2 separate regions of the Homo sapiens genome follow, and region 1 is linked to region 2. The links come from fine-mapping of genetic effects on gene expression. Tissue or cell type: whole blood. Region 2 holds a variant in brackets; the other region holds the start of a gene. All regions are shown on one strand. Distances are from middle to middle.

What was found. PIP is the estimated chance that this variant, and not a neighbour inherited with it, causes the effect.
Region 1: POLD2 starts here. The variant in region 2 is fine-mapped to the expression of POLD2 in whole blood (TOPMed, PIP above 0.99).

Annotation. Positions count from the first base shown.
Region 1 is chr7:44,120,850-44,125,996 of GRCh38, forward strand. It overlaps POLD2 (DNA polymerase delta 2, accessory subunit), which reads right to left and starts at 2,699. Exons shown (of 11, transcript NM_006230.4): 1 at 2,662-2,699; 2 at 985-1,260. The coding sequence starts at 1,204. It also overlaps the pseudogene RNA5SP230. RefSeq lists a silencer at 2,385-3,094 and enhancers at 2,881-3,785, 3,305-3,364.
Region 2 is chr7:44,059,119-44,064,265 of GRCh38, forward strand. It overlaps DBNL (drebrin like), which reads left to right. Exons shown (of 13, transcript NM_001014436.3): 10 at 236-331; 11 at 425-540; 12 at 930-1,035; 13 at 1,659-5,147. The coding sequence ends at 1,798. It overlaps PGAM2 (phosphoglycerate mutase 2), which reads right to left. Exons shown (of 3, transcript NM_000290.4): 3 at 3,609-3,812. The coding sequence ends at 3,646. Among named protein-coding and RNA genes, the nearest start is that of PGAM2, 3.9 kb to the right of the region's middle. RefSeq lists enhancers at 253-412, 356-931, 932-1,508, 5,032-5,141. The variant G/A (reference allele first, on the strand shown) is at 3,222.

The DNA of each region.
Region 1 (5,147 bases), 62 kb after region 2:
CTATCTCAGGTAGTTTTTTATAGCAATGTGAAAATGGACTAATACATATCCCTAATGAATTTGAGGTTCTAGCTAGATTTCTAGGCCCAGGGTTCTCCTGCCTGCCTATAACGAGAATTGATCTTGGCTTGGCATGGGATGAGATGGGCTTCTCAAAGCTCCCCAGGGGATTCCAATGTGCAACTAGGGCTGAGATCCATTTTGCCTGGTGCCAAGGACAGTAAAAATGAGTAAGACCTGGTCTCACCTACTAAATCCTCAGTTTAAAAATATAATAGGAGATGGATTTGAAAATTACCTGGAAAGCCACTCTTATGTAAGTGGTAGGAATGGGGGAATGCAGCAGCACCTAAAACTCAAATAAACTCAAAGGGGGAGATGGGGGTCCCTGCTTCACCACCAAGAGTAATCCAACTGCAGGAGAGATCACCAGGGAAGAAATGGGGGCAAAGAACAAGGGTTGTGTTGGGCAGGCCACTTTATTAGGAAAGACAGAGGGCCCAAGGGACAGGAAAATTCATGGCCAGCAAATATGGGGGCCAGGAGGAGAGGCAAACAGACATGAGTGAACAGAGGGGGTCCCCTCGAGACCAGAGAGTGCATCCTCACCAGTCTTGGCTCCTGGTGCCTGGCGCCAGGCTTGCCACACTGAGGGGCTCTCTGGCTACAGCACAGGCAAATACCTGAATAATCTGCACTGAAGATAGGAAAACCATTTTCCTCTGCCAGTGAAGTAATCGCCATCACCGCCAGAACTAAGTCCTCATCTCCAACCAGCCTCTGAACTAAAACTAACTCCAAACCCACAAATTACTTAATTTAATCCTTGTTACTATCTTAAGAAGAAACTGAGGGAAAAAGAGGTTAATTTTCCCAAGGTAACAGGAAGTGGGATCAATTAGATAAACTGTTCCCATTCTCTTGCAGAACACTTCTAAGTTCAGGGATGCTGTGGGGGAAGCACCTTCCCAAACTCTCACTTACCCCAGTGCTGCTGGGCCCGGTTCTCCAGGAAGGGTCTCATTTGGATGAGGCGGGTGGCATAAATGTGGGCATACTGCCGGCTAAAGCTGCGCTCTCCTAGCCGGAAGGGTTGTGAGGAGTTGGTGTAGGTTGCCACTGGCACCCGGGCAAAGGTGGCATTGTTGGCTGATGGTGGGGACAGTAGAGTGTGGGCCCTCTGGGCAGCCTGCTCAGAAAACATGGCCACACTCCTGACTTGCTTGGTCCACACAGCTTCGCCCAGGCCAAGGAGGTTCACTGCGAAAACACAAAGGCATTCCTGCTGCCCCTGTCCATCCCCCAAAGCAGCAGCTCTCCTGGTGTCTCACTGCACCCAAAGGATACTGGGAAAAGAAGGAGAACAGCTGTAGTTGACACCAGACATTGTGTCCACTTGGAAATTTATCGTGCCTGGATACCGATGTCTCACCCTGTAGCGGTCATCCAAAAAGAGAAAAGGAAAGCTAGGAGTGTTTGTCCCATCTGGAGTTCTTCCCGAACCCTAGACTCAGGTGTCCTGTTCCATCTGGACAACTACCAGGGTCTCAATCAAGTTCAGTTTGCCCCAAATGGAATTCCCGATCTGCCTCCATCCAGCTCTCCGGCACCTGTCTCATTTCCAGACAAGAGGTCTGCCTTATTAAATAAAACTTCTGTGAAATAATAAGCCTATTATTAAATAATAATAGAACTAAACCAAAACCAAAACATAAATCAGTCACTGCTCTGTTCAAAACTCTCCAAAGTGTCCTCATTTCATTGAATAAGGCCCCAAGTCCTTACAACTGCCTATGAGATCTGCTCCACTGGTCCTCTCCCCTCCTGGTTCCCACTCCTCCACCTTGGATCCCTCCCCACAGCAAGGGGCCTCTGAACTCTTGCTTGCCCCTCTCCCGTATACTTATAGAGCTCACTTGCCCATCTCCTTCAAGTTCTTACATCTTTACTCAAATGTTACCTTGTGCCCTGCCCATCTGATTTACAACTGCAACTCTCCCCAGTACTTCAACTGTTATTGTTGTTTACAACATTTACCTTCTAACAAACTGTATATTTTAAATGTATTGTCTGCCTGCTCCAACTAGACCATAAGCTCCAGGAGAGCTGAGATTTTTGTGTCTTATGCCACTAGCCACCTAGGGCTACGAAGTACAGGAGATGTGGTGAGTCCAACTGTGATGTTTGGGTTGGACACACAATGGATTTCTAAGAATAGTACAAAGAATATCCCAATAATTTTTTCACATACAATTGAAATAATAGTTTGAATATATTTATGGATTTACTCCAATTGATTTGTTTCGTTTTACTTTTTTCGTACACCTACTAGAAAGTTAAAAAATTCCCTAGCGGCTTGCAATCTATCTCCACGGGACAGCACTGGCCTGGGACACAGGCTCCGCACACGTGTCTAACGAGTGACTCGTTAGGAGCTTTTGGCTCGAACGTGCTTGATGGCGGCAGCAGCCAGGCCGCGCTACTCGGGATGGGGCCGAGAGCGCCCTGGGGGCTGTCCCAGTCACGGCGGGTGCCCCGGCTCGGATCCACGCGGCAGCTGCGGGACGTCCGCCAAGACACCAGCCCACCGACCCAGGAGCCCGGCCTCGCGGCCTGGAACTGCCACCCCCAGCTGACCCCGTTTCCCTGGACCCCACTCACCGCGCGGCGCGCCGCATCCCGCCAATCCCCGCGCGCCTGCCCCGCCCATCGCCGCAACTCGCTAATCCCCGCGCGGCTTCCCCGCCCATCGCCTAATCTCACCAATCGCTGCCCTCCTCGCCCCGTCCGTCACCAGGCGCCTCATCCCGCCGACCACTGTGCGCCCAGTCCCTGGGACGCCCAGAGAACGCGGAGCCACACCCTCGGTTTCCTGGGCAACGCGGGGCGGGGGCTCGCAGGCCGGCGCCGCGGGTCTTTGGTTGGCGGCCGCGCGTGCAGGGGTTGGGCTGACGGGGGGTGTCGGCCTCCAGTGGGCTGACCGCGTCACCCCGTCAGGCCCTGCCCAAACCTCCCAGTGGTCGTCACCCCGCCAGACCTCCCAGTGGTCGGCCGCCAGCCTCCTTGGTGAAGCCCCCAGCGTCCCAGCTTTCCCCGCAGAGCTGCCCACTTGTAGCGATGGCGACACGCGAGGAGGATCCCAACAGAAAGAAGGCCCAAGGCCCACTAACTTGGCCGGGGAGAAGTAACTCTTCCTGAAGGGATGGCGCGGGGTCTCGGGGTTCCTCCCGTCCTGCCAGCGTCTGCGTCCGGGAAACGCATTGGCGGTTTCGGGGTCCTCCCTAGCTTGCCCACAGCTGCACACCAGCTTCCAGCCCAACACTCCCCAATCTCCAGTGTCCTCGTTGTCCCCGTTACTCATACTCGTTCTTACCACCACGTCTTTCTGAGTGCTGTCTCCCACTTTGGGAATACTTTTTTTTTTTTTTTTCCATCTCCACTAATTTATAGAATTCCTCACCCCATCAAGAGACGCTTCCCCACTAAGCTTCCCGGGCTCTTCCCGCCGCGCGCTGATTCTCCCAGGCGTCCTCTAGCGCTACTGTTCTGCTACTTCCCTGGGCCTGTTTCCTAAGTCCAGGTCTTGTCTCCACAACGAGTGGATATTAACACTCGTTAATTATTACTTAATATTTTAATTTTTGTTTTTGTTTGTTTGTTTGAGGCAGCGTCTTGCTCTGTGGCCCAGGCTGGAGTGCAGTGGTGCGATCTCGGCTCACTGCAGCCTCGAACTCCCAGGCTCCAGTGATTCTCCCGCCTCAGCCTCCCGAGTAGCTGGGACAACAGGCGCGCAGCACCACGCCTGGCTACTTTAAGTTTGTGTGTGTGTGTGTGTGTGTGCGTGTGTGTGTAGAGACAGGGTCTCCCAATGGTGCCCAGGCTAGTGTGGAACTCCTGGGCTCAAGTGATCCTCCCACCTCAGCCTCCCAAAGTGCTGGGATTACAGGCATGAGCCACCACGCCCAGCCTTATATTTTAATTTAAAATGTGATATTTTAATTATTAAACGCCTTTGCAACTGCTTTGAGGTTATGACACATTAATTCATCTGCTCCTCAAATAATCCTTTGGGTCAGACACAGTGGTTCACGCCTGTATCCCAACACTTTGGGAGGCCGAGGTGGGAGGATCGCTTAAGCCCAGGAGGCTGAGGTTGCAGTGACCTAAGATTGCACCACTGCACTTCAGCCTGAGCGACAGAGCCAGACGCTGTCTCAAAGCAAGCAAACAAACAAAAAACCTTTGAAGCATGAACTATTATTTTTCTCCCACTTTACACATGAGGAAATTGAGGCAGGGAGGGCAAGAGAGATCATGTAGCTAGTGAGTAATAGCTGGGATTCACACAGAGACAGCAGGACTCTTGCTGGTAAGGTTGTACTGTTCTGAGCCTTCACCTGAAACATTGTACATGTATTGGGCAAACAAATAATTTTACTTTTTCCTTTCCAATTCAGATGCTTTTTATTTCTTTTTTCTTACCTGATTACTCTGGCTAGAACTTCCCATACTATGTTGAGTAGAAGTGGTGAAAGTGGGCATCTTTGTCTTATTCCGGATCTTAAAGGGGAAGCTTTCAGTCTTTAGCATTAAATATGTTGCTAGCTGTGAGTTTGGGGATTTGGCCTATGGATTTTATTATTTGAGGTAGTTTCCTCCTATTCTTAGTTTGTTGAGCTTTTTCTTCTTTCAAAAGAGTGTTGAATTTTGTCAAATACTTTTTTGACATCAATTGAGATGACCGTGTGGGTTTTTTTTCTGTTAATGTGGTCTATTACATTTATTGATTTTTATGTTGAACCATTCTAGCATTTCAGGAACAAATTCCACTTGGTGGAATTACAAACCAAAGTTACAATAATACTAGCTTTTAATGTATTCTCTTTTATATAATTAATTTTACTTTAATTGCACCTGAATTTTCCTTTAGCATAGACCGTTATTTCTCCCCTCCAAGTACTAACCAGGCCCAACTCTGCTTAGCTTCTGAGATTGGACACATTCAGGGTGGTACGGCCATAGATGAGATCTTTATTCGTTTATTCGGCTTTTTTTTTTGAGACAGGGTATCACTCTGTCACCCAGGCTGGAGTGCGGTGGCACAATCTCGGCTCACTGCAACCTCCGCCTCCTGGGTTCAGGTGATT
Region 2 (5,147 bases):
GGCCATTGACCTCATCAGTGACCACACTGGTCACCAGTTTGGCCTCCAAAAGATATTGGGCTGCGCTGTCTACCACGTCACCACATAGCACATGGCCCTGGGGCCTCTGTTCCTGCACTAGCAAGAGCAAGCCCCATGAGACTGCCTCGAGCACACCAGGGTGGAGGGTGCTGTGGGGTGCGTGGGTGTGTGGTGGTGTTTCTGAAGTGATGTATATATTTACCCGGGTTTGCAGGCAAGCTGAGGAGCCCCTTCCTGCAGAAGCAGCTCACCCAACCAGAGACCCACTTTGGCAGAGAGCCAGCTGCTGCCATCTCAAGGCCCAGGGCAGGCAAGGCGCTTGTCACCCCATGGGGACCCTGGGGGACAGCAGTGGAGAAGGGGGATGTGTGGGAGTGAGAACCTGCTGTGTTCCCTGGTGCAGATCTCCCTGCTGAGGAGCCGGCGCCCAGCACTCCTCCATGTCTGGTGCAGGCAGAAGAGGAGGCTGTGTATGAGGAACCTCCAGAGCAGGAGACCTTCTACGAGCAGCCCCCACTGGTGGGTTCCTACACTGGGGCTGGGGCCAGGAAGGGGCTGCATACTCAGGAACACTTATCACGGGCCGCCTGAGTTTTCTGGGGGCATGCAACAGGTTTTAAAGCACATGCATTTTTGGAGCAGCCCTGTGTTATAAATTGTCAGGGCACGCCCCACTCTATAGGAGGTGCTGGGTGGGAAGAGGACCTTGCAGCCTATGGCTGAGGGATTTATGCACTGTCCTGTGGCTTCTGTACTCTGGTAGGGCGGGGACAGCAGCAGCCCAGCCCCCGAGCCTGTAGACTGCTTGCCCTCTGCGTACTCCCAGCTTGACCTGAGCCATGTGGGGCAGAGCAGCGATTGTGTGTAAGGGCTGAGTCTGGGGTAACACCTTTGTCATCCCTGGGCAGGTGCAGCAGCAAGGTGCTGGCTCTGAGCACATTGACCACCACATTCAGGGCCAGGGGCTCAGTGGGCAAGGGCTCTGTGCCCGTGCCCTGTACGACTACCAGGCAGGTAAGGTGCCCTGGCCTGGCTGGCACAGACCACAGGGTCCTGAGGTTAGGAGACAAGAGGGTCTGGGGTTTTATGGGAAGATGGCACCAGGGGGTATCAGGAAGAGAAGACAGGAGGGTGGGCGGTGCGTTTAGGGGTAGAAGCACCTCTGGAGTGGGGGTGACTGTGGCACTAGAGTGTTCTGCACAGCCCAGGCCTCCCTACATGTTCCTCATTAGCTATTTGCTGGCCGCTGATGTGAATCCCAGTTGCCACCCTTGTCACAGAACATGGACTCTGAGCAGGGAGGTGGGCCAGGCCTGGATGCTGGTTCACCAGGCGTCCCTGGGTGGAGGCCTTGGAGAATGGGGTGGAGGCCCCCTACGGAGCAGGCTGGTGTCTACTCTAGCCTTTTTTGGGAATGCTCTGTAGGAGGGTATGCCCTGGGGGTGTGGTCACTGGAGCCGCATTGGGACAGGGTGCAGTGTTGGCCAAGGCTTAGCAGGGTGGCAGGGATATTTCTGAGGAGGAACCAGAGCTGCAGCGAGGTGTGCTGCAGCAGTGTGGGGCTGCCGTGGGCTGCCCGAGCAGGTGGGATGTGGGAGGGAGCCCCTGATATGCATCTGGGCTCATCCTCTTTGCAGCCGACGACACAGAGATCTCCTTTGACCCCGAGAACCTCATCACGGGCATCGAGGTGATCGACGAAGGCTGGTGGCGTGGCTATGGGCCGGATGGCCATTTTGGCATGTTCCCTGCCAACTACGTGGAGCTCATTGAGTGAGGCTGAGGGCACATCTTGCCCTTCCCCTCTCAGACATGGCTTCCTTATTGCTGGAAGAGGAGGCCTGGGAGTTGACATTCAGCACTCTTCCAGGAATAGGACCCCCAGTGAGGATGAGGCCTCAGGGCTCCCTCCGGCTTGGCAGACTCAGCCTGTCACCCCAAATGCAGCAATGGCCTGGTGATTCCCACACATCCTTCCTGCATCCCCCGACCCTCCCAGACAGCTTGGCTCTTGCCCCTGACAGGATACTGAGCCAAGCCCTGCCTGTGGCCAAGCCCTGAGTGGCCACTGCCAAGCTGCGGGGAAGGGTCCTGAGCAGGGGCATCTGGGAGGCTCTGGCTGCCTTCTGCATTTATTTGCCTTTTTTCTTTTTCTCTTGCTTCTAAGGGGTGGTGGCCACCACTGTTTAGAATGACCCTTGGGAACAGTGAACGTAGAGAATTGTTTTTAGCAGAGTTTGTGACCAAAGTCAGAGTGGATCATGGTGGTTTGGCAGCAGGGAATTTGTCTTGTTGGAGCCTGCTCTGTGCTCCCCACTCCATTTCTCTGTCCCTCTGCCTGGGCTATGGGAAGTGGGGATGCAGATGGCCAAGCTCCCACCCTGGGTATTCAAAAACGGCAGACACAACATGTTCCTCCACGCGGCTCACTCGATGCCTGCAGGCCCCAGTGTGTGCCTCAACTGATTCTGACTTCAGGAAAAGTAACACAGAGTGGCCTTGGCCTGTTGTCTTCCCCTATTTTCTGTCCCAGCTCATCCGTGTCTCTGAAGAACAAATATGCTTTTGGACCACGAATTCCCAGTTTGGTCTACACAGGCTCGCAGCTCTCACCTGTCCTGCTGTAGCCTGAATGCTCCCATGTGGGAATAGCACCCCACCACCTGCCCAGTGTCTGCCTCTGCTCCGTGTCTGGGGTGAGCACCCTCACCCTGAGACTGTGGCTGATGATGATCAGCCACCAGGAAGAGGCTAAATGTTAAGATGGGACTGAAGTTGGAGCCTTCCTGCGTTCCAGTTCCTCTAGGAGAGGCCAAGGGCTGCCCTGCTCCCAGCTTCAGGGAGCCTCTGCCTACATGGGATGGCCCACTGTGTGGCGTCAGGTACCTGGCACCCACTGAGCATCCGGGGAATTAGGTCCCTCCTGTGCCCCAGAGCTGCTAGGCAGACTGCTAGGCGGTTGACTCAAGGTGTTACCTGCTAGTGCCTGGGGTGAAGGCTGCATGGAGCCCAACCTTGCTCCTGGCCTTCCTGTGCTCAGGCCTCTCCCCTTTTCGCCAGGGCTTCCTGGTGCCTCTCCCATGAAGAGGGAACTTCCCCTCCACTCCCATGGAAGACCCAGGTTTGGGCTGTTGCCAGCTTTGAGGCCCCCTGTGGGCTTGCCTGTCCCAACCCAAGAGGCAGGGCTCAAAGTGCCACCC[G/A]GGGGTTGCAAGGACAGCAGAGGACCACCTGCCCTCTGCAGGAAGCTGTCCAGGAAGCCGTGTCCTGGGCTGTGGTCCTTGCTCCCCATGGGGAGAGCTGGGTCACTTGGCCTCTTCTAACTGGCCCCAAGCACGCCAATTCTGGAGCATGGTTACTAAGTGGCTCTGAAGCTTCAGGGTCACCACAGGCTTGTCCTGACTGCAAACTCATGGAGTGGTTGCAGCCCTGGCTCAGTGTCCTGATGACTAGGTGTGGGTACTAGGCTCCTGCCCCTGGTGACACACGTATGGAGTGGGGGAGGGTGGGTGGCTGCACCCCTGGTTCTGGAGTCCCCACAGCTGATGGCGGTGTGAGCCTGGCATGCACGGCTGCGCTGGACTCCAGGCTGTTGGGGGAGGTGCCTTTATTGCCCAAGCCCACCCCTCACTTGGCCTTGCCCTGGGCAGCCACAGCCTCCATGGCCTTCCGCACCGTTTCCTCATCACCCAGGAACTGCATGGGCTTGGTGGGCTTCAGCTCCTTGTTCAGCTCATACACAATGGGGATCCCCGTGGGCAGGTTCAGCTCCATGATCGCCTGGTCTGACATCCCTATGCCGGAAGGAATAGGTGTCCTTAGCCCCTCTGTCCCCAGCCTGTTTACACAGCAGACACTATGTGACCTTTATGGTCCACAGAGCCAGTTCCCCTGGCACCAATTCCTTCCCAGCCCTGAGAACGAGGCCACAGAAATGTTGCCAAAGGTCAAGGAGTAACTGAGTTAGACCAAGCAGCCTACAGAAATAGCCCAGTGGTGAAAAAAATGGGGACTTCAGCCCCACCCAAGTGGCTGTGATCTGTGGTGGTGCTGTCCATAGTTCCCTCAGCCCAGTGTGACTCCAGCCAGACTGAAGTTGAGGGTCAGGAAGGGACACTCACCCTTTGTTTTTTTTTTTTCTTTTCTTTTTCTTTTTCTTTTTTTTGAGATGGAGTTTTACTCCTCTTGCCCAGGCTGGAGTGCAGTGGCACGATCTTGGCTCACTGCAACCTCCATCTCCTGGGTTGAAGTGATTCTGCCTCAGCCTCCCAAGTAGCTGGGATTACAGGTGAGCGCCACCACACCCGGCTAATTTTGTATTTTTAGTAGAAACGGGTTTTACCATGTTGGTCAGGCTGGTCTCAAACTCCTGACCTCAGGTGATCTGCCTGCCTCAGCCTCCCAAAGTGCTGGGATTACAGGAGTGAGCCACCGTGCCCAGCACCCTTTGGTTTCTAAAGTGCTCTAAATTCTAGACATCCTGAACAGAGGAGCAAGTGCGGAATGGAGCTGGAGGAGGGACAGGGAGGCCGAGCCTGGTCGAAACCTGACCCTGCCTGCCTCCTGCAGCCCCTGAGCTGGGAATAGCAGCTCGACCTTTGATGTTCGCGCCACTCCACCCCTGCTCCGTGCAGGAGGGTTTAAGAAAATGTTCTCTGGGGAGTCAGAGTGAAATCCCTCATATTCACCACCAAAAGTGCGTCCCCTTTCCCCAAACCAGGCTGTGGGAGGGTCATGGGGCTGCATGAAGTCTCCGGAAGGGAGAGGAGGCAGGTGGTCCTTCCCTCTGCCTGGCCCCAGTGCCAGGTGCCAGGTGTCCGTGTTTGGAGCGGGCAGGCTTGGGGCTGGCTGGGTCTCCGGGGCCTGCCGGTCTGGGTGCTCTGGCCAACTGCCCAACGGCCCTAGGAGCAGGAGGTCTGGGGCACACCCTTCTAGCCTTTCCAGGACTCAACAAGCTTTAAGGTCATTCAGATGCTAATTTAGACTGCCCTTGTGTCAGAATACTAAGGTGGGAGGCGGAGCGGAGGTGCCAGTCACTCTGGGCGAGGCCTTACTGCGCCCATGCATCCCGGGCCCATTTGTCAGCCCTTGCTCTTCAGTGGGAGCCCAGCTGCAAGCCCAGAGTCTGG